Linked DNA regions of Homo sapiens. The protein of the gene in region 2 purifies or fractionates together with the protein of the main gene of each other region. This does not show direct contact. Each region holds a gene or a part of one and is shown on either strand. Other genes may lie near its edges.

The links.
Region 1: the proteins of DMRT1 (region 2) and MECR purify together in Homo sapiens (affinity purification with mass spectrometry; one large-scale study listed by BioGRID and IntAct). This does not show direct contact.

The regions. Positions count from the first base shown.
Region 1 is NC_000001.11:29,224,282-29,228,103, forward strand, and holds part of MECR (enoyl-[acyl-carrier-protein] reductase, mitochondrial), read right to left. Parts: intron 1,748-3,822; exon of another isoform or gene 1,471-1,747; intron 536-1,470; exon of another isoform or gene 442-535; intron 331-441; exon of another isoform or gene 1-330. UniProt on the Homo sapiens protein: Catalyzes the NADPH-dependent reduction of trans-2-enoyl thioesters in mitochondrial fatty acid synthesis (fatty acid synthesis type II).
Region 2 is NC_000009.12:963,612-966,880, reverse strand, and holds part of DMRT1 (doublesex- and mab-3-related transcription factor 1), read right to left. Parts: intron 1-3,269. UniProt on the Homo sapiens protein: Transcription factor that plays a key role in male sex determination and differentiation by controlling testis development and male germ cell proliferation.

The DNA.
Region 1 (3,822 bases), on a different chromosome or scaffold from region 2:
CAGCTCCTGTCTGGCTGGAGGCTGGGAGGGCTATTGATTGTGTAATGAACCAAGGGCCAAGAGGGGGTCCTTGGTAACATCTTGTGCCCAGGATCCCAGATTTCAAACAAAATCATTGCTCCCTGGAGGCTGCTGGAACAACCATTGGTGAGCAGGCAGTCAATGCCTGTGTTACTTTCCTAGAATTGTCACAGCCGGACAATTGTTGGAGCAAAGAGGATTCACGTCTCATGATAATTTCCATGGCTGCAGTGTTATGCTGAGAAGGATGTTGAGGGCCCGTCTTGTCTTGGCAGGAAGAGCGTTGTCTGGGGAGAATGTGATAAAGAGGTGTGTAGGTTTTGAGGTCTACAGAAAGGGACTGTGAAGGTCTGCATGGGGACAGCACACATACCCATATTTACCACTGCTGACCTTGGTCACTCTCTTCATTTTATCAAGGAGTAACTGAAGATAATTGGAGACTAACGTGATTTCCTCACTGCCATAATTAGTGGCAGAGGTGGGACTGGAACACAGGCAAGAAACATCCCAAGTCACAGGTTCACCTTGTGTCATCTTTGCTTTTCCTTCTCTAAAATGAGGACCCCTCCCACCTCACCCAGGGTGGGAAAGGCCAGTTCATCCCAGAGAGCTGCTAGGAGAGGGCAAGAGACAACTTGGAGTGGCTCCGAGGGGCAGCTTTCCTCCCGGACTCTCTGGACGGAGGGAAAACCCCAGTCTTTTGTGTGATTCCTAGGGGGTGTGCCTGCAGCTTTCACCTTCAGAGGCAACAGTGAGAAAACCAGGGTAGCAGGGCTTGGCCCTAAACTCCACAGCCTAGTCTAAAGGCCAGATGGAAGGTAATGTATGAGTTATAGGATGTGGAATCCGCTTAAGCTTGAGCCCTGTGATCTAAGGGTAGTCCCCTCTGAGCTGGTTTCAGCAGACACCTTTCTCACAGGATTACATGAGTGCACAGTAGGCAGTCAACAAATACGGACTGATCACACACACCATGTTTTCTCTTCCCTCGGGGTCTCTGCACATGCAGGTTCCTCTGCTTGGGACATTTCCCCACTTTCTCTCCTCATACACTGCTCACCGGATCTCTGGAGCACTCAGTTTACACCCTGTCTCTTCAGAGAACACTCTGACTAACCCGAGGGGGTTAGGTAACCCCCTTCTGGGTGTCCACAGGACTCTGAACATATCCCATCACAGCATTTACCCCACTGGACTATGGCGGCCTTTCTCCTGGATTAGGCTGTGAGGCTCTGAGGGCAACGACCACAACAGATTCAACTCTGTACCCTCAGTGCCTTGCACTCAGTAAACTCTCAAAGAATACATGCTGGCCAACTTACTATATCAATGCCTTCTGTTCCCACTCCATTCATGACCACAATAAAGAGCTCTAAACAGAGCACCAAACCCAAAATGCTATTTTTTCCCCAAAGTACTAAAATGTGGGTTTAAAAATCAAGTCACCTGCAGTTTTGCTTTATATTAACTGTAAAAAGAAGAAATTCCTGAGAGTAAACAGTGCCCTATAGTGAGAATGGACAGACTGGGGCCCCACTACCTGCTCCTCCAAAGTCCATCTGGCTTAAGACAGAATGGGTAGGCCGGGTGCCGTGGCTCATGCCTGTAATCCCAGCAATTTGGGAGGCTGAGGCAGGTGGATCACCTGAGGTCAAGAGTTCAAGACCAGCCTGGCCAACATGGCGAAACCCTGTCTTCACTAAAAATACAAAAATTAGCTGGGTGTGGTGGCACGCGCCTGTAATCCCAGCTACTCAGGAGGCTGAGGCAGGAGAATCACTTGAACCTGGGAGGTGGAGGTTGCAGTGAGCCGAGATTGCACCACTGCACTCCAGCCTGGGGGACAGAGCCAGGCTCTATCTAAAAAAAAAAAAAAAAAAAAAAAAAAAAGACAGAACGGGTATATGTCCACGGGTTTCCAGCTCCAGCTTAGTTTCATTGTTGTACTAGCAGCAGGCAGGTGAGAAAGCCAAGATGATCAGGATGCTGTTTTACAAAAGCCTCGGGATCCTGAAAAGGGGAGGAGACAGAGAATGGTATTTCTAAACTTTCCCAGGATTGGGGCTGCCCTTTCTACAGCGTAGAAATTTGGGGTTACCTGAATGACCTACAATTTCACCTTCTCTTCTGACCTTTTTCCCAATTTTATAGTCCATCTCATTCTCAAAAATCATTTGAGACTTTGGGAGGTTGAGGCAGAAGGATCGCTTGAGCTGAGGTGTTTGAGATCATCTTGGGCAACATGGTGAAACCCCATCTATATTTTTTATTTAAAATATTTAAAAAAGTTTATTTGAAGAAATCATTTGAGGTGACTGCTGTTGTTTCCTCAGGCCTATGTCTATATCAAGGACTTTTAATAAAGAAGGGGCATCCTAGCTGTAAGATCTCGGATAAGTGCCTTTCAATCTACTTGAGCTTCAATTTCCTTATCTGTAAAGTGGAAGTAATAATAACCAAACTGGAGTGTTTTGATTTTAAAACCCCGTAATATACAGGGAGCATTTAGTCCAATGCTTGCTATACAGCAGGTATACAATAAATGAAAGCTGTTTTCACCAGAAGATCCAGAGAATGGCAAAGTTCTGAGCGGACTTTCAGGAAAAAAAGAAGGCAAGAGAAGAACTAAGCGTTTCTGGGAACTATCTTTTTTTTTTTTTTTTTTTTTTTTGAGACACAGCCTCACTCTGTCGCTGAGGCTGGAGTGCAGTGGTGTGGTGCAATCTCAGCTCACTGCAACCTCTGCCTCCTGGGTTCAAGCGATTCTCCTGCCTCGGTCTCCCGAGTAGCTAGGATTACAGGCATGCACCACTGTGCCCGACTAATTTTTGTATTTTTAGTAGAGACAGGGTTTCGACATGTGGCCAGGCTGGTCTCGAGCACCTGACCTCTGGTGATCCGCCCGCCTCGGCCTCCCAAAGTGCTGGGATTACAGGCATGAGCCACCATGCCTGGCCCCTGGGTTTCTGGGAACTATCTGATAGGGAATCTAGAACTCTGCACAAGGGACAGTGGCTATGGAGAACTCTGAAATTTCTCAAATGTTTGTCATTCTTCTGCACAGTCTTACTTTACTTAGATCTACAGTTTAATCTTTTAAATAAAAAAGGCCCAAATACTTATTTAGGGAATCCCATTTTGGAAGAAAGGGAAAGAAACTAAGCAACAGGGGAAAATGGCTTAGGAGAGAACAGCTGCAATGTTTGGAGGCCAACAGGAATGAAAACAGGGACGTGAGAACAGGAGAAACCTGGAGGCCTCCTTTTGAGGATTCAGACCTGAGAAGGCTGTTCCTCATTCCTTCCCTCCTGCTTGCAGAGGTGTGGCCCACAGCGCAAGCATCACAAACCACACTAGTTCTGACAATGCTCTGTTCAGACTCTAGGTAGTCCCATGACCCCTACCTGGTGTAACCTGACCCAGACAGCCAGTTACCAGGATGTGTAAAGGACACCTGATTCTTTCTGTGACAGTGTGGTTACCCTAAACCTTGTAAGACATGACTACAAAGAGAATCCCAGTCTCTGGCTTCAGTCCATACGAGAACAAGTAAAGCCGCCTGAATCTGGGTCAGAAAGTAAAGTTGCCCTTCTGGAGCACGGAGAGAATTACTGCTTGTCTGACAATCTGTATCCACAAGGCAGTGGTTCTCAAGCCTGGCCTGGGCAGCAGAGTCACCTGGAGAGCTTTGAAAAAAACAGAAGCTCCAAGCCATCCTAGACCTACTAAGTACCTCAGGAGTGGGGCCTAGGAATACATACGGTAGTTTCTAAAAGCACTACAGGTCAAGCTGGGTGT
Region 2 (3,269 bases):
GAGCTGAGTGCTGAAGTCATTTGTAGAGAACTAAATCATAGTAGAAGCTGCACTGGGTCCTGATGTGTTTGCCATCAATACTTATTATGTTTGGAATTTAATAAGGTATATTACCATGCTGAAAAGAGACCTTTTTACAACTGAACACTATTTACACTCGTTACGGGTTTGGAAAAGGTTTGCTGCAGCTAGTGGAACCACACAGAAATAAAAGAACAGAGCTAGGATTTAAGAAGCAGGCCCTTAACCACTCCACTGGACCACATTCTTTCAGAAGGCCCCCTTCTTCCAGTGTGACATATGGGTAGACAGATAGACAAATGGATAGTTTTGTACAGCTACCTCAATATCCAAGAAGGAAAGAGATGATCTGAAAATTCAGTAAGTGAATAAATTTGAAAAACAATTTAGGCAATTTCCTGACAAGTGGTTACTTTTTATATTGATAGATTTGTTTAGTCTTTAATAAGGTAAATAAAAAGCAAAGGATAAGTTTGTAAGCTTTAAAATATAGGAAAATATTTTTTTTTAATTTAAAGGGAGTCATTAAGTAGTATTTCATAACAAAAAAGCACGCATATGCATATATAAATATAGCAACCAAAACTAGGAATCTAGGAAATATGAAGCCTTCATCTTATTACAGTTCATAAAAGTATCTTACTAAATTTGTATTGTTATATGCATTTAAATTCCATGCAAATCCAAGGTGATTTATTAATTGTATACATGCACCTGGTTGTCATATATATGTACAGAGAAATGTTTTCCAAAGGCAGCAGACTGCTTTGAGATCTTGTTACTATACAGATCTGGAGAGCCGACTAAGAGCTTCCTGGAGTCCGTGCGTTAATGTCCCCACCCCCAACCAGTGACAGAAGTTTCTCTGTATAGAAGCTATGGAGAAGAACAGTAAACATTACTGACTACTACCTGTATGCCACACACATACTTTAGTGAGGTATTTCACCCTCAAACCATTCACTGAGAGAATTACTCTCCCCGTTTAACACAGGGATCCTGTGCAAGCTGTCAAGGGCAGCACTGTACTGATTAGGCTGACTCTGGCGTGCTCTGGCCCCTGCACCAACCTTCTCCTGGGCCCCACATTTCAGAACTGGCAGCTGAACCTTCCCAATCCCTGTGTGAGTTTAAGGAGGCAAAGCAACGGACCTTTGCCAAGCTGATGCAGAGGCTTGTAAAGGAATAGGTATGTGTTCTCCCAACATGTTCAGAGCCCTGGGCCTGTTTCCAGTTAGCAGCTGACTGGGAGATGCCCCGGGAGATGCCCTCTCCTCATTTAGCCAACTTGGGACTGAAAAGGGGAGGAGTGGGAATTTTGCAAAAGAAAGGAATTTGACAATATCCCCCTTTTGCTCTAACTTGCCTTATGAATATTTTCTTGGAAAGTGCTCTTGCGACGTGGGGCCACAAAGCATGCAGAATATTACCTGCATGGACTAGCGGGGCTCCAAGCATACTTTTAATGCATGACTGCACTCTAGAGAAAATGTAAAACTCACCCTGTTTTGAAAAACAGCCGTATTGTTTATAGTGTTTCTCCACTCAAAATTTAAACCCATGCTATTTTTACATTTGTTCAAGGCTTAGCATTGTTTTTAAATAATAGGCTGTTGAAGTTAGGGATAGTATCTGTTTAAGTATAGCCCCTCATAGAGTTCTAGGTACGTGAAAAGATTTAGTGTGTTTTTCCTTAGTGACTAATGTCCAAAATCACTTTTACTACCATCCTTAAAGATCGTCCCTCAGAGGTACCTTTTCCATTTTAATGCAGCTTCCTTAAACTTTTGGAAGGAGAAGGCTAATAGTTGACCGTTGTAAATTATTTCATACCAATTAAAAATTCAAAAATCTAAATGATGCTTTTCGCTCTTTGATTCTAAGGGGCCCTACACCAGGCTAATTTCAACTCAAAAGTCTTGTCTTAGGTCATTTTGTAAAAATGCTAACTCCTAGCGTCAGTGGCACTGTGGGGGAACAGATAGTATTGGTAGCACTAGAAATTGGTTCAATCTCTCTGGACAGCAATCTAGTGACATGTAATAAGAACCATAAAGCTGTTCAGCCCCTCTGACCTGGTAATTCCACTCTGGGGAATAACCCCGAAGAAAGGAAGAATAATTGAGCCTGAGATGCTCAACACACCGTCAGTGAAGATGTTAGTGTACTGCTCTTGTGCTTGGGGAAGGGAGTTGGGGCCAGCTGCACTGGGGTTGGGGGCAGGAAGCATTCACAGGCAATAAACAATTAAGGATTATACTACCCTATAATCATTGATAGCCTCCCAGCATTTACAGAAATAGAAGAAATTATTTCTGCACACCACAGCAGAGACTGAAAAGTAAGGAAAAGAAAAAAGGAAAACTTGCCCATCTGATATTTTTTTGTGTTACAATGAAAGGTGGGTAAACCTCCGAGGCTGACCCTTGTTTGAACCAGCAAATCTAGTATCTGTTTTCTCTCAAGAAGCCTATTTGTCTACCGAAGCTACTGGGATGTTATTTTATTATGATTTAAAAATAAACAGAAAACCTTACACAGGATCATTCTTACCAATGAGGGGAAAAAACACTTCAAGATGATTTTGATGCCATCTAACCATGAGTATTATTTTTGAAAAATATTTATACTGTCAAAAAAGAAAACCTTCTTAAAAAAAAAACCACAAAACTCTAAGTGCTAAATCTTTTGACATTGCAAAGACCCCTGACTTTTAACTTGAATGATCTGTTGGAAGTCAATGGACTGGAACGAATAATTCTCTTCCAGTGATGTGAGAAAACAGGATATTCATGCTTTAAAAACATTTTTCCTTCCTCTATATGTTAAACACTATTAAACTCCTAAGAAACCATTTTAAAATAAAATACAAGTGGCATTTTTCAGTTGTTACCAACTCTTCATCTAGATGCTGACTGCCAAGGCAGACAAACAAAATTGCTGGCCTCTTCAGTTTCCTAGACTTTGTAGGCATAAGAAAGAATCTGATGAAAAGCTGATGAAAATTTCTTAAACAACAAATTCTTCCACTTCATGATAACCATAGTGTTTGGAAATAAAATCATGTGCAATCAATACCACTTAGCATATATTTAATGTTTCACAATAGAACTCTTTTCCAGAGTGGAACTGCTGCCCTTCTCACTAACATTTAAAATAATTAGGATTATCTTAGCTGTCCGAAGCTTGGCAGGTTCAGTTTGTACTTTCAAATAGCATTAATTCTTGGCACTCAGAACAAGGGATAA